4 separate regions of the Homo sapiens genome follow, and all the other regions are linked to region 1. The links come from fine-mapping of genetic effects on gene expression. A gene starts in region 1. Each other region holds a variant in brackets. All regions are shown on one strand. Distances are between the middles of the regions. Region 1 holds the start of LDLRAD3 (low density lipoprotein receptor class A domain containing 3). Region 2 overlaps LDLRAD3 (low density lipoprotein receptor class A domain containing 3). Region 3 has its middle 25 kb from the start of LDLRAD3. Region 4 overlaps LDLRAD3 (low density lipoprotein receptor class A domain containing 3).

Evidence for each region.
Region 2: its variant is fine-mapped to the expression of LDLRAD3 in adrenal gland (GTEx, PIP 0.95).
Region 3: its variant is fine-mapped to the expression of LDLRAD3 in substantia nigra (GTEx, PIP above 0.99). The same link has a PIP of 0.9 or more in prefrontal cortex.
Region 4: its variant is fine-mapped to the expression of LDLRAD3 in whole blood (INTERVAL, PIP 0.95).

The regions. Positions count from the first base shown.
Region 1 is chr11:35,941,464-35,947,791 of GRCh38, forward strand. It overlaps LDLRAD3 (low density lipoprotein receptor class A domain containing 3), which reads left to right and starts at 2,599. Exons shown (of 6, transcript NM_174902.4): 1 at 2,599-2,681. The coding sequence starts at 2,636. RefSeq lists a silencer at 2,510-2,949.
Region 2 is chr11:36,065,322-36,071,649 of GRCh38, forward strand. All of the region lies in intron 2 of LDLRAD3 (low density lipoprotein receptor class A domain containing 3), which reads left to right. It overlaps LOC101928510 (a long non-coding RNA gene), which reads right to left. Exons shown (of 2, transcript NR_135064.1): 2 at 1-1,940. Among named protein-coding and RNA genes, the nearest start is that of MIR3973, 58 kb to the left of the region's middle. The variant A/G (reference allele first, on the strand shown) is at 4,048.
Region 3 is chr11:35,915,719-35,922,046 of GRCh38, forward strand. No RefSeq gene overlaps it. Among named protein-coding and RNA genes, the nearest start is that of LDLRAD3, 25 kb to the right of the region's middle. The variant G/T (reference allele first, on the strand shown) is at 3,814.
Region 4 is chr11:36,108,279-36,114,606 of GRCh38, forward strand. All of the region lies in intron 4 of LDLRAD3 (low density lipoprotein receptor class A domain containing 3), which reads left to right. Among named protein-coding and RNA genes, the nearest start is that of MIR3973, 100 kb to the left of the region's middle. RefSeq lists enhancers at 1-392, 393-916, 1,441-1,964, 1,737-1,916, 3,015-3,538. The variant T/C (reference allele first, on the strand shown) is at 3,441.

The DNA.
Region 1 (6,328 bases):
TAATGTTGCAGAGGCTGCTGTGGGGAGTAAATGAGAAAATGTTTGCAAATTACAGAGCATTGTATGGAGGCCCACAGAGAGACGACATTCTTTCTTCCCTCCTTCAGCAATGTGAAACCGTGTCAGAAGCACACATGCATGGTCAGAGTGTCTCTTGGTAAATAAGAGACATAAAGCACTTTGTTTTTTATTTTTATTAAACCAATCTTAAAAAAGATTGATTGGCTCCATAGACCTAAACGATTAGCACTGAAACCTCTCACATTTCCTGGAAACTGAATGTTTTGCGCTTGGAATTCTAAAGAACTGGGAAAAAGGAGAGTAATAAAGTATAAAGAATAGTTTCATCTCCTACCCAGCTTATACGGTGAGGAGGAGGTTGGCAGTGATTTAGTATAAGTATAAAAACAACAGTCGGGCCGGGCACGGTGGCTCACACCTGTAATCCCAGCACTTTGGGAGGCCGAGATGGGCGGATCACGAGGTCAGGAGATCGAGACCAGCCTGGCCAACATGGTGAAACCCCCGTTTCTACTAAAAATACAAAAATTAGCTGGGCATGGTGGCGGGTGCTTGTAGTCCCAGCTACTTGGGAGGCTGAGGCAGGAGAATCCCTGGAACTCGGGAGGCGGAGGTTGCAGTGAGCCAAAATGTGCCACTGCACCCAGCCTGGGCAACAGAGTGAGACTCTGTTTCATAAATAAATAAATAGATAAATAAATAAATAAATACAACAGTTGACCTTAAATAAGGTTTTACATTAGTCCAAATGATTTCAAAGACATTAATATATTTATATTTAAAAGTGTGTGTGCCTGTGTGTATGTGAGAGAGAGAGAACGAGAGAGAGAGTCAGAGTCAAACTTGCAAAGTAAGGAAGTTGATGTGTCCAAAGAAACCTAAGGAAATAAGAACTATAGCAGTGGGTCAGTTGCATTATCTTTCCGTATCCCTAATGTTTGGAGGCAAATGAGCAGCTGTAGGAGAAATTATTTGCTTATTTGCCTCCTCAGATATTATTATCAAAGGCAGGAGGCCTCTTCCCAACAAGCTTCCCGGAACAATGCACATACCCACATGCACAGGACATTTTGCATAAAATTTTAAGGGCTTTAAAATTCTTTGAAGCCCATGGGACGATCTCCATAATATTCATCAATCCCAGGATAAAAGCCCCGAATGCCAAATCATTTAGATAATTGATTTATATTTTCCATGTGTACTATGAACTATGGAACTTAACCTTTCCTCCCTCACATCACATTTTCTCATTACCTTGAACAATCATTGGTATTTTTAAATTTTGACCTGATCCTTTTTAGCCTTTATGTTTCCAGACTACAGCACGCAATTACAGAGTAAAGTAATTGAATCTTAACACCCTTGAGGGTGTCTCCAGGGCATCCCAAAATCTGACGCAGGCATCCCTTTTATAACTGCCCCTGTACCCATACCTTCCCCTTTCTTTCAGCCAGGTGGAGTTTGTGTAAATAAACTCAACCCTTTTGAGGGGTGGATTTTAGGGATGCAGTTCTATTGTTTTGACAAATGTATACAGTTGTGTAACTACCTCTATAATCAAGATTAGAACAGTCCCACTGCCCCCAAAAGTTTTAATTTATTGATCCATTTATCAATTGATGGACACTTGAGTTGTTTCCAGTTTTTGGCAATTATTTGCGTTAGTCTTTTGCTTTTTTTGGGTGGGGGATCAGAGAGAGTGGAGCACAGAAGTGTCATCCCCTTCTTCCACCATCTAAGTCTTTTGGGGCTTTTCACCAGTGCCCTCTGGAAGCAAGTGCATTGGTGCAGCTATATTTTTTGCATTTGGGTATCTGCCTTTCATGACCTTTTCCTTTTTTTAATTTTATTTTTTCCAAATTGGGTCCCAAACGTTCAACAGGTCAAGGTGGACACTATGCAGACAAAATAACTCATGTGGTCCACGCTGTGTGCATGGTAGGTGTCAGCTGCTCTTACCGGTGGCTCCCGGATCATCAGCCTTGGAATCAGCCACCATGTTGTTAAAAATGCAGAATCTCAGGCTCCACGCCAGATCTACTGAACCAGAGTCAGTATTTTAACAAGATCGTCAAGTGTGCCGGATGCATATTAAAGTTTGAGAAGCACTGGTATTCCACACTCGCTACTAAAAATATACTACAATTTTCTCATAAGATTTGACCCTTTATTTTAACTTTTTCTCTCTCGGTAGTAAACTCACTTTGTAGTTTGAGTAAAGAACTCAAGTTTTGGTCTGGGCGCTGCATCTCGCTGGGTGTGGAAGCAAAGGCAGAAATGAGAGGGACAAAAGGAAGCAGAGAACAGAGCCCAGGCTGTTAGAAGATCCTCGCGGCCAGACCTGGGAGGCTGAAAGGCTGAGAGACCGAAAGGCTGAACCCTCCGCCGCGCTCGGCGGCCCCTCGGAGTCAGGACACCCAGGGTAACATGCGGGTGGCCACGCGCAGCCCAGGCGCTTGCAAAACTTAGCGGAGCCGGGCCGGGGCCGGGCCCGGGGAAGGCGGGAGGGAGGAGGGCCAGGCGGGAGGGCGGGGACGGCGCGGCGAGGGGCGGGGTCAGCGCCGAGGCCGCGGGGGCAGCAACGACGCCGGGCAGCGGGAGCGGCGGCCGCGCCATGTGGCTGCTGGGGCCGCTGTGCCTGCTGCTGAGCAGCGCCGCGGGTGAGTCGGGGGGCGGCCGGCGAACTTCCCGCGGGGCGCGGGGCGCGGGGCGCGGGGCGCAGCGGCCGGGTGCGATCGCGTCCTCTCCCGGGCGCGGGCCGCTCTCCGGGCGTGGGTGAGCGCGGAGGGCGGACCCCGGCGCCGGGCTGGCCCGGACCCTGCCGAGGGGCCGCCGCGGGGTGCGAGCCGTCCTATTGTGTGGGCGTGCGCGCCGGGTCGTGTTGTGCTGTGTGCGCGGGCGGGGCTCTGTGTGCAGTCCGGGTCTGGGGAGCCCGGCGGCTGCCCCGATTGGGCGTAGCTCGAGTGTGGCTGTGTGTGTGTTGTGTGTGTTGAGGAACGGAGGCGGGGAAAGGAAAGGAGAGGAGAGGAGAGAACTCTTCCCTGGTCTCATCTTCCCAGACGCCTGGTCGCGCGCGGCTGCGTTAGCCTCCTCTGGGCCTCTTCCCGAGTCTCTGGCGTGCACTCCGTGCCTCAGTTTCCCCACCTGCACCGCGGAGGGAGTAGCAAAGCTGCTTCCTTTCATTCCTCTCTGGGACTGTTTGGTTTGGGTAAAGTGAGTTGAAGCAAGGCCGGATCTGGGAATTCATTTTTCCCCACTGATCCTGGGAACCGAAGCTTTATTTAAGACGTCTGACCACCCTACTTGCCCCGCGATGGGCGCCCTGACCGGCGAGGGGCCCTGGGAGAGGACACGGGGCTTCATCCGGCGGCCCTTTGAACCTGGCATCACCACCGCGTGTGCATCCCGGGGCCTGGACCGCAGCAAGCCTCTTTCCCTTCCAGACAGCGTGCTGTTCCCAGGAACTTTTCTGCTGATGTGGGCATGATCCGAATTCCAGCCTGGGAGCCCTTCCTCCTCTGCCCCTGCCCGCCGCCCACAGCTGTCAGCTGTCCCTCCTGGACTGGGCCCGCCCTTGGCCCCTTGACGTTTATTTCTGGGCATCTGATGCCTAGAATGTGGGTGACAGGGCCCAGTGAACTTTCTTCAGCAGAATCTTGCCTGCCTGGTGTTTGTGCCATCCACATGTCCAATAGCTGCCCTATTTTGCCAAGTGCTTCTAGCAGCTTGGCTGTCGAGGTGTCTTTGGTGGCCTGTGGGTTTGCTAAGTTGAGGCTCACTTCATTCTTAGCTGTGCCTTGGAGTTATGAATGCGTTAAAGGGATATCTCCTCTCTTCCTTGATGTCCCTGGTCCTGGGCATCCTCACAGCCCACTGGGCAGCCTTTCCTGCTCTCAGACCCATGACATCATCTCCACTCCTCTGATACCCCATTTAGATGCTTATGGGTTTGCTGGGCTTCCAGGGAGGGACTAGACCTCCTGGTGACTGCTGTGGATTTTTAACCAGGTCTGGGTGAGAGTGCCCTTAAATTAGTCCACCTGGGGAGAGAGTTCTCACAGGACATTGGGCAGCCAGGAGCAGGTGTGAATTGTTTGGAGGCTGTTAGAGCAGGTCGATTTTCAGGGCGTCTACAGATATGAAGACCTGTTTGGATTCACAAATTCAATCTGTGTAGCTGTGGTGTGTCCCCTCATAGCACCTGAGAAGGACAGTATGGAAGCTGGCTCTTGTGTGTGTCCTGGGAGAGCCACTGTAGCCAAATGGAAACTTATTTATTGCATCTCCCAGTTGGTACTGGGTTGCTTTAGTTGAGTCTCCATCTCTGTAAAAATAGTTGTAAAGTTAATTTTGTCCCTCTCTGGTCAGCAGTGGCTATTTAATGTGTGTGTGTACATCTGAGATAGGGCTAAAATAAATAAAATGGTCATAGCAAGGAGCAGACGGATAGGGGGAGGAATAGTCCAACTGTCCCTGGTGGGTTTTCCATTATCTGTGGGCTTTGAATTACCTTTAGAGTTGCTGCCTTAGAAACATCTAGGCAGGTTGGAGTGTGTGCATCTTTCATGTTACATTAAGCATCATCTTTTTAGCATAGATTTCACTTTGACCCAAGTGTTGCCAGAAACAGGGCTGGTCCTTTTTCCTAATGTCAACTAGATGCTCCTGGGCTCCCAGCCCATAAGAAAAGCCTGTTTGGTTCAGTTTGGGTTTCATAGCCAGACCAGAGACCCTACCCCTCCATCCCATGGCCTATGCTTGGATCCTCTTCTGGGAAGTTGATAAAACAAGAGAGATTGTAAAAGCCAAGACTTTGGATCTCTGTCTCCATCTGATAGTCTGTGAAAGAATCCCAGGGTCAAGGTTGAACCGTAGTTAGAGTCCTGAGTCTTTGTGGGGCTGGAAAGCCACTGACATTCCAAGAGCAGTTTGGAGGCCTTTTTTATTCAGGAACCTTCTCAGACACCTTGCATATTTTTTTCTTCCTTTGTTTTTATTTGTGTTAGGGAAGTGAAGCATTGATTTTCACCGTTACTATTTTTTAATGTATCCTGCGAGAGAGACTAAGCCCAAGTCATGTCATCTGATGTCCAGTTTTCCTGCATGTGGGTGGACTCAGTGGGTTTAAGTGCGTATGGCTTGAGACATTTCTAAAGGCAGCCATGCTGGATGATGGTCCATCTTCTCACCTCCTCCAGGACTGACCTTTGCCTAGACTTCCTGACATTCTGTATCAGTGAAAAGGCTTGATTTTCCCAGGAGTGAGTGTACTCCCAGGAGTGAGTATTGACCTTTTCTCCTGGAAAGATCTGCTTAACGGTGTGAGGGGTGGGTTTTATTGTTTTTAACTTGCTGAGTAGCTGTGCACATCTCAGCACAGCTCAGCTCGGGAAGATGAGGCCTAAAAGAGGCCTTGTACACCAGAGTACAAATAAACACACCTTGTTGCTTTTCATCTTCAAAGAGATGTGACTAAGGCTCCCTACTGGGGTGTGAGATGTTTTTTCCTGACAGCCGACTTAGGCCATTTACTCTGGGATAAGTGGGGGAGGGAGAGAGATGGGAGTAGGAGAGGGTGGGGTGGTAAATTCTGGGCCTTGAAGAGTGGTTTAGACACCTTTCAGCCAGTCTGCAGGATAAGTTGAAAGTGGACTTGTATTGTCACCTTTGTAAAGCAGTTTAGAGAATTTGGAGTTTAGGAACACTTATAATCAAGTAATTTCATGTTAAAGAATTGGCCTTAAGCCGGAGTAATGGCTCACGCCTGTAATCCCAGCACTTTGGGAGGCCAAGATGTGTGGATCGCTTGAGGTCAGGAGTTTGAGACCAGCCTGGCCAACATGGTGAAACCGTCGTCTCTACTAAAAATACAAAAATTAGCCAGGTGTGGTGACGTGCGCCTGTAATCCCAGCTACTCCGGAGGCCAAGGTGGGAGAATCACTTGAACCTGGGAAGCGGAGGTTGCAATAAGCCAAGATCGCGCCGCTGCACTCCAGAGCAAGACTGCCTCAATTAAAAAAAAAAAAAAGAAAAAAGAATTGGCCTTTACAACCTTGCCTGTTTCTGTGGGCAAGGGAAAGAGAGGGAACCCACTATCAGTGAAGCATCTCCTGTGTGTGAGATGCTTTGCTCATTACTTTAAGCACATGATCCCATTGAAACTTGCCAAGGATATCATGTGGCAGGAAATCATTGTATGGTTCAGGAGAGATTGATAATACCCAGGGTACCACAGTAAAGGCTGAAGCCTAGATTCTAACTTAAGCTTCTCTTTGCCCCCTACCTGGGCTTTTCCCACTCTGTTTC
Region 2 (6,328 bases), 120 kb after region 1:
ATAGCCACTTATACTCTCCTGATTTCAAATATTTTTTTAAGCCTCCCAGGCTATTCTAATATGCAGCCAGGATTGAAGGCACTGCTTTTTTGGATAAGTTAGAAGCTGAGGATCAGTATTTTGTTGTTAAAGTTAGCTCATAGCTACCAAGAGATGATAGCCATGGGATTTTCTGATTCCTGTGACTGATGTAGAAGGCATTATAGAAATTTCAGGATGCCTTGGTGAAACCTTTCCTAGAGCAAGACTTGTGGTGCACTAACGTACTATTTTCCCTAAAGAGTTGTTTTCAAGTTACATCATGACACAGAGAATGTTTTCTTGTGCAGGCTGTGGGAACAGCCTGAAGGAGCCTCCCTCCCTCTCTGCCCTGTTGACACACTCACCTCTGATGTATCTGAATGGAAGTCTTCAGTTCCCGTGGGTGTTACAGTGGCTTATCTTCACATTGTAGGCCTTTATATCTGCCCTTTGCAGGTGTTTTGAGACAAAACCTGAGTTTTAGGGTTCTGCTGTTTATGTGGATCATGTGGGGAGGGCCAAGAAAACCTTTCAGAGATGCCTCTAGAGAGCTCATCAGAAATGAGCTTCCTCTTTGGAGTCCGAAGGCAAAGAATATGCCACGGAAGCGAGGATGTTTGAAGAAGGAAAACCTCAAGGTTTGCTAGGAGCCAAGGGGATGGGAGAGGGTGGAGGCTCTGAAAAGTAAACCCTTCTTCTTTTGGCAAAGATAACCCTCCTTGCCTAAGTGAGATGGAAAAGGGTCTAGAATGGAGTCCTCTCTGAGTTCATTCAGACTTGAAAACTGTCTGTGATTCTTACACTCTTCACTCATTTTCTTTTTTTTTTTTTTCTTACTTTTTTCTACTGCTTGTTAGGAGTCATCCCTTAGATATCACCTTTCATGCAGTTGGATGATACCTTTACTGAAAGACTCTTTTTTTAGGTGGAAACTATTCTGTTCTCCCTGAATCTCTGTGCTCACATCTGGTCTTAATCCCAGGGACTTGGATCCACTGTCAGGAAGTTTTTCCACCAAGTAGTGAAAAGCCTCCAGAGGCTCAGTTACCTAACCCACATTTATTTATTATCTTTTTAGATCTTTCCTCACCCCTCAAGATTTGTCTGTAGAAGCAGCGGTTGGGAATATCTTAGTTTCCTGCTTATAAATTCTCTAGAATTTTCATTCCAATGTATATGCACACAAAAACCTCTTTATCCACATATGTGTGTGCATTACAAATAGCCAAAATAAATAACCTTTAAAAACCCCTTTACATTATAATTTCCTAATCCCAAACTTGCTTGGTGGAAATTTTGCCTTTTTTTTCCTCGTCATTCTTCGTAATAAAAGTACTTTAAAGGTCGATGATAGCCACTTTGAATTCTGTTATGGTTTATAGTGTCTTTCTTTCTAAAAGTACGAAGAATATTATGGGCTTGTCTCTCTTCTGCTCCCTCAGGGCTGTTGGGGGGATGAGGAGATTTCCTTGACTTTCAATAGCCTCATGATATCTTTGTGAGTTCATATAAAAAGTTTCTTCAGAAAAAACAAATCTGACTCATCACTTTCCTTTAGAAAGATGTCTGTTGGCTTCCAGGATAATTCCAGACTCCTGTCTGCCTCGCTCCCAGACGCATCTCCTGCCGCATAGCCCATGTCCCAGGTGTCCTAACTTCTCCCAGATTTCTGTACAAGCCATAACCTGTTTCAACTCTGAGCTTCAGTTCATGCCATTCCTCTTGTCTGGAGTGTCCTTCCCTCTTTTTTTTCACTAACACACTCCTAATAATCTTTCATACCCAACTAAAATAGCACAGGTTTATGAAGTACTCCTTGGCTTCCCCAGGCTGAGTGGGTCCCACTCTTTCTGAGTTCCTTTTGCATTCTGGCCATTCCCCACGTATTAATTAAGCATCCACTGCTGGGCAGAAAGTGTCTGAAATGATAATAATAATAAATGGGAATAGTAATAATAGCTAATACTGTATAATAATGCTGGATAATCTGTAACACTCAATACTACATAACACTACATTTTATATTTTATAATACTATATTTTATAGTGTAATATCAAATAATAAGATGTAATGTATAAAACGATAGCAAATATAGTATTAACTATCATAGCTAATACTTTGTTCCAGAAAAAGTGCCAAGTAATTATTACATTGTCTTATTTAATCCCCTCAACAACTGAGCAAGGTTGGTAGTGTTCATCTCTCTATTTCCTGATAAGGAAATTGAGGCACAGAGTGGGTAACCAACTTACCATAAATCATATGGCCAATAAGTGGTAGACACAACATTTAAACCCAGGCAGGCTGACATCTAACTGCTTAACTGCTGTAATTAACTTTTTTTTGAGACAGGATCTTGCTCTGTCACCCACGCTAGAGTGCATTGGTGTAATCTCAGCTCACTGCAGCCTCTGCCTCCTGGGCTGAAGCGATCCTCCCACCCCAGCCTCCAGAATAGCTAGGACTACAGGCGTGTGCCTGGCTAAATTTTTTTTTGTATTTTTTTTGTAGAGATAAGGTTTCACCATGTTGCTCAGGCTGGTCTTGAACTCTGAGTTCAAGCAATCCACTCGTCTTGGCCTCCCAAAGTGCTGAGATTACATGTGAGAGCCACCACAGCTAGCCATAATTAACTGTTGAAAGGCAAATGTTGATACAGCTTCTGTTGTGCTTACCACATCTCATTGCAATCATCTGCTTATTGTCTCTTTTTCGTTCTCTTTCTCTTGGCCAGGTGTTTTTTTTAGCTAAGGGCCTCTTGCTAGCAGGAATCATTCTTGCAGCCCCCACACTTGGTTCTGTGTGTGGCATAAAGTGAGTTTGAGAATTAATGTTGGTGGAATGAATAACTGAAAGAGCAAAGCCTTAGACTGTCTAAACATTACATTGATTTCCACCTCATTTTTCTCAGGACTAGCCGTCTATGTGTAAAGCAATTTGTAGAACCATGAACTATGTTAGGGAAGGGAGGGCATTACTGAATCTCTACCAGATAGCAAGCATTTTGCTGTATTCTCTACATGCAAAATCTCATTTTATTTTCACAACAGCTTGGGAGTTCTATACCATCTTTATCTTCCTTTTACAGATGGGGACGCTGAGGCTGAGGGAAGTTAAGTGATTCATCCAAGATCTCAGTGATTACGTGGTGGAACTGAGGTGGAAACCTGGATGCTTCTTTTCTTTTCTTTTTGACAGAGTCTCACTCTGTCACCCAGGCTGGAGTGCAGTGGCGCAATCTCAGCTCACTGCAATCACCGCCTCTTGGGTTCAAGCGATTCTCCTGCCTCAACCTCCCGAGTAGCTGGGACTACAGGCATGTGCCACCACACCTGGCTAATTTTTTGTATTTTTAGTAGAGATGGGGTTTCACCGTGTTAGCCAGGATGGTCTCGATCTCCTGATCTCGTGATCCACCCACCTCAGCCTCCCCAAGTGCTGGGATTACAGGCGTGAGCCACCGCGCCCAGCCCAGAAACCTAGATGCTTCTTATCTCTGAGTCCTTCTGACCTCTTAACCCTAGGCTGTAGACCTCCTCTTCTCAGCATAAAAGAGAAGAGTTTTGGAAAGAATTTTCTACGAGAGAATCTTGTGGCAAAGCTGTTTCAACTGGATGCCTTCTTTCTGTATTTATATTCCAGTTAGCGTATGGTCTGTTGCTCTTTCACTCCCCAGTGTGTACGTCTGAAACAGCCAATATGTTATTTTAGGAAGAAATAATACATTGCAATATCTGATCAATAAAACTTGGAGTCTACTCCAGTAGTCATGTGGAGCTGAACTGTTGCAACAAGCAAAGGACTTTTTGCTCAAGCCATAAATTTTGCAAAGGCTAGAATTCCAGGAGTGAGTTTGCTTTCTGGGCTGTTTGTCATCTGCCTTGGGACCACAATAAAGGAGCTCCCCCGTTTAGCCCCCAGATTTCCTGGAGAATCCAGGCAGATTACTTTTTAGAAGTCAGTTATTTTTACAAGGCCTTCTTTGCTTTCTTGTCCCCAACCATGAAGTCATTTTCAAAGGAACC[A/G]CAGTTTGACCTTTTACCAAATGAGCTAGAGGACTGAATATATTAATAGCAGCAACATCAGATCGACCGCTTTTTGCAGTTTTTAGCTAGCAATGGCCACATGTCGGTTTTCACTTTGGGGAGCTGTGCATGTTGATTCAAATTATGTGAATTTTATACTTTGATTCTTTTCTAACATATACTTTTGATTAGCCCTTGTCATTCTCACATCTTTACAGTGAGCTGAATTGTAACTGGTTCATAGCACATTTTTTTATGAGAAATAGGGCTTTTTTTTTTTTAATTAATGAAAAGATGCCAGGTACTTTTGCGTATATGAGAAGCTTGTTCATACTGACCTCCTTTCAGTTGCTCCTTTACCACATTGTTCTGCCTCCAGGCCTTTACACAGGCGGCTTGGAACATCTTTGATTCCACAATTCCACAAACACTAAAATTTCAAATGTGGCCTAGGTGTCTTCTATGTATTCTCATTCTTTGCAGGTGCGACACAGAGTTTGTGAATTAATATTAGTGGAATGAAAAACGGAATGAGTAAGGCCTCATGCTGTAAATATTACATTGCTTTTCCGCCTAGACCGTGGCCGACCTCAGCTGAAACCGACCTTCCCCTGAGAAGCCTGTTCTGATGCCAGCCTCGTTCCTAGTTTGAGATTAAGCATCCTATAGCTCCCCAATCAGGGCACTATTTGCATTACATGCAGAGGCTCCTTTACCTGTCTCTGTCTTCCACTATCACAGAGAGAGCCTGTCAGCTTCGCTTTTGAATCCCCACACAACTGACTCAGCACCAGACAGGTAATAGAATGCTTAGGAATATTTTGATATTGGCCAAACAGGGGCAGATTCTTTATTGCCTCTTTAATCCTATTTTCTGTTGGGCACAGGTAAATGTAAATCCTTACAAAGTAGACAGAACTGAGTAAGTTTCAAAGCTCTAAAAAGGGCCTTTTTGCTTGAACAAAAACCGTTTGTATATGAGCCCACAGCTTTTGTGTGTGAAGCAGAATTTGTATCTTGCACACAAATGGGGAAGAAGAGAGCAGTGTTGAAATGGGGAAAGATCATAAAGAGGCCAGTTGTTTCCTTGTGGATATTTATCTCATGGTAACTCCTCTATCTGGGGTGTATTAGACTTGGCTTGAAGGAGTCATGGCCAGAGTAGGTCCCTCATTGGCTGTGTAGCCATGATTCTTGGAGCGGCAATAACATCAGGAAGAAAGGAATCATGAGGCCATTTGCTCTGTGGGTATAAGAAGGTGGTAGAATCGGTCAGAGCAGGATGTTCACATTTTAGTGCCCATTGAGATCCTTAGTGTGCTTAGTAAAAATGCAGATTCCCCTAGGGGAGAGACTCAGGAATCTGCATATTCACAAGCGTCCCTGGGGATCCTGCTGCAGGTGGATCACTGACTTGTTCTCTGCAACACTGCCCCAGAGGATGGGGAATTCTGGAGAAATACTGGCAAGTAGGACAGTCCTAAGAGCGAGAGCCTGCCCTTGCCCTTTGTCAAGGTCCTTAGTCAAAGGAGACCATGTAGCCCAGGAAAGTCAACTCAAGGAGCATCTCACAGAAGGAGGATGCTGCATTTTGCCATGATTCCTGCAACCCAGAGAAACCAATTCCAGCAAAGATCGATGCCCTGTACCCGGTGCAAATTTAGAATGATAAAAAGAAGAGTCATGGTTTCCTTGACCAGACAGGAGTGTCCCCTACTTTGCAGAATAATGAAATACACAGATGTTAAAATGAAAAGAGACAGAGATGGATGGAGAATAATAGAGCGCAGCAGCAGTTAAGGAGCAACTTAACAAAAATGCAGAGGAACCATGGGATGATCTCAGCCTTTGTGCTTCTAGGAGCGTCATTGCCAACTTGAGAGAATCAGCCCATCGCAGACAATCCTAGGCTGGAGGCTTTTCTCATAGCTGTCTGTGGCCAGAAGACAATACCAGTTCCTCAGGGAGGAGGCAGTCAACAGTCAAAAGGATACCAAAATGTAAAGCATGCATGTCCTTTGACCTAGCAGTTATACTTTCACGAGATAATATACAAGTGGGAAAAATAATATATGTATCTGGCTGTGCATTGTTTATTGAAAACACCCCAAATGTCCATCAGTAACGGGATTTATGGATACATAGACACAGTAAAGTTACCCTTAGCCATTAAAAATGATGATGTGTACCAGTAGTTATTGACAAGAAAAGATGTCACAACATATTATGTAGCAAAAACAGGTTTCAGGATAGCATATATTTTAAGGGTGCATTTAAGTAA
Region 3 (6,328 bases), 26 kb before region 1:
GGCACACACCACCACACCCAGCTTATTTTTATATTTTCAGTAGAGACGGGGTTTCACTATGTTGGCCAGGATGGTCTTGATCTCTTGACCTCGTGATCTGCCCGCCTCAGCCTCCCAAAGTGCTGGGATTACAGGCATAAGCCACCTCACCCGGCCTCAAACTGCTCAATTTTAAGGTCTCTGTACCCTCTATCATCACACAGCAGGGGGTCTCAAGTAGGCAAATTTCTTATGGACTGACTTCTGAGATGGCCATGTCCCTACAGATGTACAATCTTCTATCTTTGCCTTAGAGTTGCTGTTGAGCTATTGCAGGGAAGGAAGTGGGGAGGTGGTGAATCTAGGAGAGTTAGAATGAGGACTCCAGGGGTTATATCACTTTGATGAAAAAATAACATTATAAGGCATGGCATATTGGTTATAAATTTGTGCAATTTTTATGTGTCAGTTTCTCTGTCTGAATGAACCTCATCTATCCTGTATCAACACAAGTAATTTGTATGTCTTTTTATAGGTTTTTGTTTCATCTTGAACTCCTAGGGCCTGAGAGCCCTGACCATCTATGTTATACCTAGAATTTAGAATTGTTTTTCCTTTTCTTTCAATCCTGATTTAGTGTGGAATTCAGAGTCAGTGCAGGCAACTCAAGAGTGTATGATTATTGCAGAAACAGGCTGCCCAGCCAGGGTCACATTTCATAGTCCTCTGAATGTAGCTGGCCCCATGTGGTCATTTCTAGTCCAAGGTATTTAAGAAAGAGATATGCTCCTTCACGCTTCCTCTTTTCTCTTCCACCTGGTTGCAGAGAACTTTGCAACTAGATGTGGTAGCTCACACCTGTAATCTCAGCACTCTGGGAGGCCAGGAATTTAAGACTAGCCTGGGCAACATAGTGAGACCCTCATGTCTACCAAAAAAAAAAAAAGAAAGAAAGAAAGAAAGAAAGAAAAATTAGCCAGGCATGGTGATGTGCACCTGTGGTCCCAGCTACTCAGGAGGCTGAGGCAAGAGGATCACTTGAGTCTGGGAGGTTGAGGTTGGGGCTGCAGTGAGCCATGATTGCACCACTGCGCTCCAGCCTGGGTGACAGAGCAAGATCCTATCTCGAAAACAAAACAAAACTTGAGTATGCCTCAGAATCAACTAGAAGGCTGTTAAAACACAGATTGCTGGGGGCTCTATCCCCAGAGTTTTTCTTCAGTAGATCAGGGACTTGATAATTTGCAAGTCTTACAAGTTCCCAGATGTTGTGGATATACCAATCTGGGCACCACACGTTGGGAACCACTGCCCTAGGGCAACACCCTTGTGTAACACTGGCTATACTTTAGACACCCCTGGAGGTGTTTTAAACTTGTTGATGCCCAAGCTGCAACTAAAACCAATAAAATCAGAATATCTTGGGGATGGGGCTCATGTATTAGCATAAAGCTCCTCAGGTAATTACAATATTGAGTTAAAATTGAAAATCACCAGTGTAAGGTGGAGCCTTAAGATTGAAGAAACATTGGTTCTTAAATCATTGAGTGGAGGAAAGCAGCCCTACTCGAAGAAATACCCACTTTGGATTGTCATACAAACAGGAAATAAACTTTTATTGGGATAGGCTGCTGAAATTTTGGAGATGATTTGCTGTTGCAGCTGGCATTATCCTTATTAATACTACAATGTTGACTATTAAGAACCAGCTTTCAAACATTCTGTTGCTTATCCTTTTAATTCCTGCCTTGTTCTGCTCTGAGAGTATTGATATGATTGGTTAGATTCTGCGATAATTAGTGGCCCGTATTTTCTAGAGGTGGAACTTACAACAGAAATAAGGTTATATACAGCACACGTAACATAGGCATAGCCTCTCTTTTTCTCTCTATCCTCGTGGCCAGAATAGCAGGGTAGCTCTAGTTCATTCTCTTCCCTTCTCCCCACTCCTTCACTTTTTCTCTCCTTGGAAACACAGTCCTCCTCCCACCTGGAAGCAGGCTCAGATTTCTTCACTCAATTTGAAAGGACTTGGGCAGCCACCATTCGGCAAATATTCTAGGCAAAGGTGACAAAATACTTTCGCTTTTTTCTCTGATATAGTTGAAAACCAAGAATCAAAACCAAACCACAAAAAACCTGAGCCAATACACATCAGCCAGAGGCAGAGAACATGAAACTAGAAAGTCGAACAGGTAATACCTGAGAATTGGGCTTGAACCATGACAGGCAAGAAGCATGAGGTCCACTCTTGCTCAAGTTTGCATTATGGTTTTTCACCAAAGCTCTCTCTAAAAATAAAGTGCTACTTACCGCTCCTGTGAAGGCACTGCTGAGAAATGGGGCTAGCCAGCCAAAGGTGGGATTCAGGTGTTTCAGGGTCCTCTGGCCAAATGTCTTCATCGACCCTCCATTAGCTAAAAAGATGGTGTAATTGTGCAAACATAAGCATTTAAAAGGCATGGTGACCAAAAGCAGATATGGATGACTTTTATTGAGGAATCAACCCATGTCTGTGTTCACTCTAAGGGAGACTAACATGTGAATAAACAACTGGACAGATTCCCCCCACCACCCATAAAACTGTCAGGTTTTTGATGGACAGAAATGGAAAAGCTAATGGCTCTAAAAGCATATGTTGCAAGTTCTGCCTTTTCATGATAAACGTAAAGGGACAATAGCCTCAGTTGAGAATCAGTTTCCTGGCTGACGGCAGTGAACTGCCCCTCTCCTGGCTGCTCTTGTTCTTGGAGCTTCCCCTCAACTTTCCCTAGTGGGAAAAGGACAACTTTTTTGGTTGTGAGAAAGAGAAAATCCAACCTAAGATAGTGCTCAAAGAAATTTTATTGAATCATGTACTGAATGTCTGAAATCAGGACTTACTTTAGACATTGATTGATTCGAGGGCTCAAGCACTGTCCTCAAGATCCAGCGTCTCTTGTTCTCGTCCTGACTTGACTGTGTTCTCAAACCCGTGTTCCCTCAATAGATGGAGATGGCTACAGCCGTTCCAACCTCATACCTCTCAAGTCAAGCAAGGATCTAGTGAGAGTCTCCTTCCCAGAATTCCCTGCAAAAGTCTCATTGTGTCTCTAATTGGCTCTAATTAAGTCACATAATTATCAATGAGCCAGTCATTGGAGTCCAAGGAAATGCAATACCTCAATGGGCTTAAACCTAAATCACATGCCCTAGTCCTGAGCCAGGGTGAGTCATCCTGGCAGAAAGAAGAAGGGATGGCGGAATTGTCAAAAGAAGGGGGATTAGATTCTGGACAGCCAAAAAGGAACAGGTGTCTGGCATAGTATCCCTGACTTCCAGGGCCAATCAAAGAAAATTCTTCCTTAACTGTTTTCTCCTGTGGGGCAGCTTAGCGGGCACATATGATTCCCTACATTATGTTTCCAACTAGTCACAATAAAAGGGGAAGGATGGAAACAGGAATAAGCCTGAAAAGGGAACAGAATTGAGGGGAGAGCTCTCCTGAGGAGGGAAGAATGAGACTGCAGAGTGGGGACTGTGTTATCCACTCTACCCATCATCTTTCCCCTGGCAGAGCAGCCTGCCCACACAGGAACCGGATCGCAAGAGCTGGTGGTGTTCTCTTTCCAATGGAGACTCACCAGGCTGATGCTTCCTTGTTTGCCCTGGGCTGCTTCTCTCCTGCCACTCTATTGACACACACATAGATCCTCTTACGATGATGCTCCATGGAAACCAGGGATGGAATGAATCAAAAGTGGTCAGAAGAACCATTGTTCTCCTTTGCAAAATAACTGAACCCTTGTTAATCTGTTGCCAGCCTTACATTTCTCCCAGAGAGATCTCCATTGG[G/T]TGGAGGCTGTAAACAGGAAACTTGAAACCCTCAGTCATCCTTTGTATTACTTATTGTTTGCAGGCAGCTGCAGGGTATTCACCACCACAGAGCTTATGCTTGGGGTTGAATCCTAGTAGGGAGATGAGCAGTAGAGTTTCTAAGACACAACCCGCAGAGGAGAAAATATACTTCTTCAAAAGGAAAGCAGAAATAAGGCTCAGAATTGAGCAAAGACACATTTTTAAATGGGTGACAGATTTGCAAGGATAGTAAAATAACTCTTAGTTTTACTTTGTGTACAATCAGCATGCCCACACACTGTGGCTATAGGAAAATGTAAAAAATTTTTAATTTCCTGTAGTCTGGCTGAAGATGGACTATTACTATGGACAATACTGAAGCTTTGGGGCAACAGAAGTAAATTGCAAAGTAAGGCATACTTTAGAAATACCAGCAGATGCAGCTGGTGTCTAGGCTCAAGAGATCCTAGCTATAAAGATGGTACCATGTGGGGGATGAGAGCTAGGACCCAGACTATATGAGTGTGAATCCCAACTCTCACACTCACCAGCTGTGGGACTTTGGGAAAGTCACTTAACCTTTTTCTGCTTGTTTCATCATCTATAACACGGGGATAATAATAGTACATACCTCATTGGGTTATTGTGAACATTATATAGGTTACTATGAATAAAGTGCTTAGGAAAATGACTAATGCATGGTAAGAGCTTGTATGTGTTAGCTATCATTATTTTTACTAAATAATTCTTCCCCATGTAGGTACTGGATTTGTTTGTTGAGTGAATAAATAGATGAATGGATAAAATCAGCCTTAGCATTCACTGCACATAAAACACAAACCTCTCAGTCCCATTTTGCCCAGGTCCATTTTCTCAGCCATGACTGGTGTGCGGTGAGGCTCAGACCTCCTGGTTGTTTCTAAAGCCTTCTTGGGTCTCCACTCTGCAACTTCTGGAAGCTAACCAACCCCCACCAACCCCTCACATATTTAAAAAACAAAGTGTAGTCTAAAATCCATTCAGGGAAAAAAGTTTATTTAAATAAAAATAAAGCAATATTGTCTGTGAAACAAGCACTTAAATAAATGAAACATTTTTCACTGTATGGAAGGACTTTGAAATGGACCAAATGCATTACTGAGTACCTTCAGTGAAAATCTATGTGCTGTCTTGGGCAACCTTCCAGGGTGTTTGATTCTGTGGGATTGCTGCACCTTTCACTGCCTTGAACAATTTTACAACTTTGTAAGTTGCAGCTAACTGATTGCAATACAAGTGATTATTTTCCATGGACATGTGTATGAGTTTTCTGTTGCTGTTTTTAAAAAACTACCATAAACTAAGCAACTTGATATAACATACATGTATTATCTTGTATTTTCTGTGGGTTAGGAGTTCAGGCACAGGTTAACTGGGTCTTCTGCCCAGGATATCAGCAGGTTGAAATCATGATGTGGTCCTGGGCTTGGGTTTCTCTCCTAAGTGCATTTCATTGACAGAATTCATCTTGTGGTTTAAGACTGAGGTCCCTGATTTTTTTTGTTGTTGTTGTTGTTTTTGTTTTTTTTGAGACGGAGTCTCGCTCTGTCGCTCAGGCTGGAGTACAGTGGCACAATCTCGGCACACTGCAATCTCTGCCTCCTGGGTTCAAGCAATTTTCCTGCCTCAGCCTCCCGTGTAGTTGGGACCACAGGCACGTGCTACAATGCCCGGCCAATTTTTTGTATTTTTAGTACTGACGGGTTTTCACCGTGTTAGCCAGGATGGTCTTGATCTCCTGACTTCGTGATCTACCCACCTTGGCCTCCCAAAGTGCTGCGATTACAGGCATGAGCCACCGAGCCCGGCCCCCTGATTTTTTACTGGCTGTCAGCATGGGCTATTCTCAGTTTCTAGAGGCCACCTGCTGTTCCCTACCACGTGGCCTTCACAACTTGGCAATTTGCCTCTCAAAGGTCAGCAGAATCTTTCCTACTTTAAATCTCTTTATTTAAGGGTTTGCTTGATTTAGATCATACCTACTCAGGATAATCTCCCTTTTGATTAATTTGTCTCAAACATTTAATTACACCTGCAAATTCCTTTCACCTTTGTTGACCAATGTAACCTAATCATGAGAATGAAATCCATCATACTCACAGTCCTGCCCATACTCAAGAAGAAGAAATTCTGCAGGGGGTCAGCCATGGTGGCTCACGCCTGTAATCCCAGCACTTTGGGAGGCCGAGGCGAGTGGATCACTTGAGGTCAGGAGTTCAAGACCAGCCTGGCCAACATGGTGAAACCCCTTCTCTATTAAAAATACAAAAATTAGCTGGGCATGGTGGTGCACACCTGTAGTCCCAGCTACTCGTGAGGCTGAGACAGGATGATTGCTTGAACCCGGGAGGCGGTGGTTGCAGTGATACAAGATCACACCAGTGTACTCCAACCTAGGCAACAGGGCGAGACTCCGTCTCAAAAAAAAAAAAGAAAAGAAAAGATAAAAAAAAAAGAAATTCTACAGTCTCAA
Region 4 (6,328 bases), 170 kb after region 1:
CATTGCACTCCAGCCTGGGTGACAGAGCGAGACTCCATCTCAAAAAAAAAAAAAAAAAAAAAAAAAAAAAGATGCATTCCAGTTTCAGAATGTTAAAATGTAAAATAAAAATTGTATCTTAGAATTGAAGAACGGTAATAGGGAACCAGACAAATGTGGTCTCTGCTCTAATAGAGCTCATATTCTATAGGAAGAGCAGGTGTTCGGTTGGTCAGTAGCGTGAGGAATGTGTTGCAAGGACAGGCGCAGGACACTCTGGAAGTGAATGGCAGGGCAGTCAGTGGGGTGCTAAGTCTTTCTCAAGACAAGATGCTGAAGTTGAAACCAGAAGGATGGGGAAGAGTTACTGGACAAGAGAGAGGAGGGTCAGCGGAGAAGGATCCTTCCAGGCAGAGAGAATGGCAGGTAAGCAGATCCCAAGGTGAGAAACAGCGTGATGCATTTGAGGAACTGGCAGATCCACGTGGCTGCCCTGGGGTGGATGTCAAAGAAAAGCCAGAGCTAGATGGTAAAGCACTAAAAACAAACTTTATCTAGAAAAATGGTTGCCATCAGGGAAAAGAGACCTCAGTATAGAACTGGGTTCAATTCCAAATATAATAGGAAAAGTGGGAATTTTTAGCCAAGCAGTAGGGTGGGGTTAGTGGGTGGAAAATTACTAAGAGGAAACATCAGGGTAAGGGGGGATTCTGACTCAATGGACCTAACAGGATTCTCACTGAAGGCAGGCCAGGAGGATGGTGGAGGATGGTGGAGGATGAGGAACAGGATCAGATATCAAGGGTGAGCATGTGGCAGATGGAGGATTTTGCTAAACTGACTCATAGGGCTTTTGCTAGAATCAGACAATGCAGAGAGGAACGCAGAAGCCCCAAAGCTAGGGCTTCTTTGAGAAGAGAGCTCAGAAGAACCGGAGTGGAGTTTGGTCAAGGAGAGAATCTTTGTCATGGACGGGGGAAGAACAGCCTGCAGGGAAGCTGGAGTGGTCCGTGGTGGCCTGCGTGGACTGGGGGCCTGGGAAACCATGGGAAGGATGTTGCGCTCTCTCCCATGGGCCGTGGGAAGCCACGGATAAGACACGTGAAGGTGGGGGCAGTGGGAACATATGGGGGATGGCTTCAGGAAGTATTTCAGGCTAGAATCGCCAAGATTTGATGACAAACTGGATGAGAGTAGCAAGCTGCGTTATCACCATGGGGATACTAATTTTGTGGAACTAGAGAATCTGCCGTATTATTTTCTGATTGTGCTTGCTTTCCACTTTGCTGCTCCAGGCCCCCCACTAGTCTGGGTAATTGAGAGTAAAAGAGCTTATACTTTTGGAATAGAGAGATCTTTGCTTTTTTCTGTCACCAAATAGAACCAAGTGACTAAGCAGGCAGAGATAATTTCTACAGAAGTCGTGCAGGGCATGTGATAGGAGAAGTGCTAATTTTAGTTTAGTTTTCCAAATATGGATGGAAAAAGCTTTATATTTAAAAAAAAATAGTCTGCGTTTAGGGGATCCAATCAAAAATGTCACAACCTGGAATTTGAAGGGTGGTCAGTATTTACGCCAAACCTTGTGGCTGCAAGTGATGTCAAGAGCTTCATTAGAGAGTCCGTAGGAAAGAATCATCACCCTTAAGGAATTCCTGTAGATTTTCATAGAATGAAGCTGCTGGAGGTCCATTTAACAGGAAGAATGTGGAAGCCTTTTTTCCACTTTTAATTTAGAGTTTGAAAGCCCAGCTGGGCTGAGAGAGGCAAAAATGCTGACTCCATTCGAAGAAACTGAAGGAGGCTGGGAGAGGTTGATTGCTGCCTTTGTGTACAGGTGGGGTTTTCTTCTTAGTAATAGAGTGTTTGCATGACAAAAGCTTCCTTTTCTTTAACCACAGCAGCAGGAGTTTGAAGATTTCTGAAACGTCTTTCATTTAGAAGCAAGTCAGAATGATTCTGTACTCAAAGACAGTAGTTGCTTCCTGATAACTTTGTTACTGCGGTAATCTTTAGGGCTGTTTCTTTAGTCTCCCCCATTTCTTTCAGGTGCAGGTTTCCCCTCCTTGTCCCTCTCCAGTTGGTCCCTGCCTCTGTCCTAGCTCTCTCTCCCCGGTGAATGGCGGAGTCCATCCTGGACACCTGGCAGAGTGTGATTCCTCCTGAGGTGGAAGGACTGAGTTTCAGAGCAGTCAGGGATCAGGGGTAGGGCTTGCTGTCTCTCTGCAAGTTTGCTCTGCAAGTTTCTGGAGCCCTAAGACTGCTGTGTTGTGCTGCTTGATTGTAGAGGGGACATTTATCCCTCCATGGACTGACTGCTGTGGCTCTCAGCTCCCCAACCCCCAACACCCTTTGACTCTCTTGGGTCTTTCTAACATTCGTTCATGCACACATCATTTGCAGAGTGCCTGCAATTGCCCGGTCTCACCCAGGTACTGGAAGAAATACAAACTATTATAGATCAGCTCAAAGTTGCTCACAGTCCTGCAAGGGAGAAACATAATAGCCTGCAGATAATTACCCTCAAGTGTGATAAATGCTGTAATAGAGGAATGAGCAGCATGCCGTGGGAGCTTGAGGCTGGCAAGGAGTGACAGTTTTTCCTAGGGGGATATGGCAAGGCTTCAGAGAAATGAAATCGCTGCCCAGTCTTTACAAATACATAAAAATGGACCTGAAAACAAACGTGGGGCTGGGCATCTAGCCAGAGAGGGAATAGTATAGCCAAAGACAGAGATTCTGTATGGCTGGAGCAAAGTGTGCATGTGTATGTGTGGGGAGTGGGAGACGTGAAACTGTTAGGGTGCATTGAGGCTGACTGCTGGGGGCCCCCTCCCTGCAGGATCCAATGAGAAGGTGGAGACAGAGGAAGAAACCCAGGAGAAATGAGATGTTCAACCCTGGAAAAGAAATTCATAGGAGCAGCTCGTTATCACTGCATGCCGTGAGAATTCTGCTTATCCTTGTGTCTTACTGAGCCCTGCTAGCCTACAGGCAGGATGAGCCTGGGGAATCGGGGAATCGTAGACCTGTGAATTTCTAGGGGTGAGAAGAGTTTGGGAAGCTCAGTGACCATAGAAGGGATATCCTCCCCCTCCTGCTTCCAACAAGTGGCTTGAAAAACTTACCTGGGTTATTCAATCAGGTCAGTTATGTCTTTTTTTTTGGCCCCAGTTTGACTTCCTGATAGCTTTGTGGCCAGTGAAAGGTGGAAATGTGCTCTGTGTTGCAAATATGTCAGTTCTTGTCACATCCCCCAAGTACTCCAAGCAGCTCTTTCTTGTTTCCACCTTGTTTTCCTCTCTGGAAACCCACCATGTTATCAGTCTGTTTCATCTTTTTTTTTTTTTTTTCTTTCTCTGAGATGGAGTCTCACTCTGTTGCCCAGGCTGGAGTGCAGTAGAGCGATCTCAGCTCACTGCATCCTCCGCCTCCCGGGTTCAAGCACTTCTCTGCCTCAC[T/C]CTCCCGAGTAGCGGGGATTACAGGCGCCTGCCACCACACCCGGCTAATTTTTATGTTTTTAGTAGAGATGGGGTTTCGCCATCTTGGCCAGGCTGGCCTGGACTCTTGACCTCGTGATCCACCTGCCTCGGCCTCCCAAAGTGTTGGGGTTACAGGCGTGAGCCACCACGCCCGGCCCAGTCTGGTTCATCTTTAGTTCATTTTGTGGAATGCCTCTAAATGACACTTACCCATCTTCTCCCATTGGTTCTCTTCCTTGAGATTTTGTGCCCTTTATCATGTGTCTGCTGCTCAAATTTGCATCAGTAGGTCAGCTGTTATTGAAACCCTCCTTTTTTTCTTTAAGAAAATTTATTTGTACCTCTACAGCAGAAATAGAGAGAGAATAAGTTTGTGCAAACCACACTTTATGAAATGGATCCTCATAGCACATCCTTTTTAATGCAGGCTTGTTGTTGCAACATTATTCCTGGATTTTCAAAATCCAGCCAACATGGATACCTCTGCTACTCTGAAACCCTCCTTTTTGCAGAGCACATTGCTAGGTGCTGAGAGTCAAGAGAATTCCTATGAGCTGCTTCATTCTAGTAGCTTATTTTTTAATTGAAGAGAAAGACCAGGAATACACAACCATCTCTTTGACCACTACTAACTTGAGAAATGTTGCATAAGGCCTTCTATTTAAAAGTAAACGTGAATTCCCCATATATCCAGAGTGCCAGGGGACTTAATGTATGTTAAATTAGTTGCCCTGTCCTCAGCAACTTCCAGACCGTGCACTCATGACCTTTGGAAGGGGCAGCCCTCTGCTCTCCAAGACACCTCCCTGCCATCTCAGTCATTGTTGACCAAACCTTAAGTGGACAATTGATCCTAGGCTAGTCTGTTTATCAGCTGGCCAGCAGCAAATCAGAATGTCTCTTTCAAAGACACTCAGGGCTGAATCAGCCTTAGGATGCTAAGCAAATCATTCCGTAGGATAGGACACAGTCACATAGAAGCTACAGCTGGGAAAGGCAGAATTCATAGTAGAGAGTGCTGGTCCACCTAGAGGCCAGCCCAAGAGGCCAGAGGTGGCCATCCCCAAAAGAGAGATGGAGAGAGTATTTGCTTTTTTTCCTCAGATGTTTTCCCAAATCCCCAGGAAGCCCAGTATCTCTGCCTTTTCAGTGAAGCCTCTGTCTTCTAGAGTATGCCTTTCCCTTCATTTGAACTGATTTGAGTGGATTGCAAGCTCTTACCAAGAATGGTCAGTGTCAGTCAGTCATACATGGAGTCATGGAAGACCTACATTGCATACCTCTGACAAATAGGAAGGAATGGGAAGACAGGGAAAAGGTTCAGAAAGACAGATATGTGCACATCTTTTGAGGGACTTTTGGGATCTAGTTTCTAGGGTTTCTTCTATGATTCTTTCTCACATTAGGTTCTTAATGTGGAATATTTGAGGTGGCCCAGGGATTCTGTATTAGTTAGAACATAGGGTAAGCTGCCATAACAAAGAGATCCCATCGTGAAGTGGCTAAAATGAGATGCAGGTTATGGCTTAATAAGTGCCTTCGATGAGAAAAAGATCTCTCACTTGGAATACCCCAGAGATGAGCAGTTTAGGCCAACAGGGAGCTCTCCGCTCCTCAGGAATTCCAAGACCACTACAGTGGTTACTATTTCTGAGACATCAGAAAGCGGGGAAGTACAGAAGGAGAAGACTGAAATTAAAAAAAAAAGAAAGAAAAAGGAAATAAGAAGGGGAGACCAGGACAGATAGCTTGATATATAAGAAGATGACCTGAAAGTTATACACATCACTTTCACTGATGATGTGGTTGCCTGATCATGACATATTCACATGACCACACCTAGCTGCAAGGGAGGCTGATCAATGTTTTCTTTCTCATTGTGGGTACTTATATCACCTTTTATATCCTAGGTGTAGAAATCACATAGCATCACTTTTTTTTTTTTTTTTTTTGAGACAGAGTCTTGCTCTGTCATCCAGGCTGGAGTTCAGCAGCATGATCTCAGCCCATTGCAACCCCTGCCTCCCAGGTTCATGCGATTCTCCTGCCTCAACCTCCTGAGTAGCTGAGATTACAGGCCCACGCCACCACACCCAGCTAATTTTTGTATTTTTAGTAGAGACGGAGTTTCGCCATTTTGGCCAGGCCGGTCTCAAACTCCTAACCTCAGGTGATCCACCTGCCTCGGCCTCCCAAAGTGCTGGGATTACAGGTGTGAGCCACCATTCCCAGCCAACTTCTGCCATACTCTATTGATCAAAATAGTCAGGACTTTCTATAATATTATGAAAAGGCAGAAAGGGAGATTGGATGGGTACTGGGGATTGATTAGCCACAGTCTTTGCCACAGACTCTTTTGGACTGAGCCGATAGGTCAAAGGTTAGCTTATGCAGTAGCATGGGCTGTAGGTTTTTTGCACTGATCAACACCGGAACTTTTAGAAGACTTTTAGAAGATTTGTTGCTGCTGTGAGTGACATCAGTTCACACAGCCTGAGAGAGAACTCTCAGTCCATGCTGTCCCTCCTTGGGCTCACTCAAGTGAAATGGGTCGAGCTGCAACACTGTGCGGTGCCAACCGGGAGAAATCTGCCTATCGGGGCTGAGAGACATCCTGTAGTGGCTGCCCGTCTCCTTTGCCCCAAATGTCAAGTGGAAGAGGTGCTTCACATATTTATTTCTTCCTACATGGGCTCATTTATTGTAAGCCCATTGTGACCCTTGGAAAGCCAAGCTTTTATCTTGATTTTGGAGTGTGATCAAGGTGACAGTTGTTCTCTGGATGACAGGAATCTGACTTTGGTTTTGCTTTTTCCATAGAGGTCAGTTGGCCTCAAATTTGGGCCAATTTGCATCTGGAGGAGACC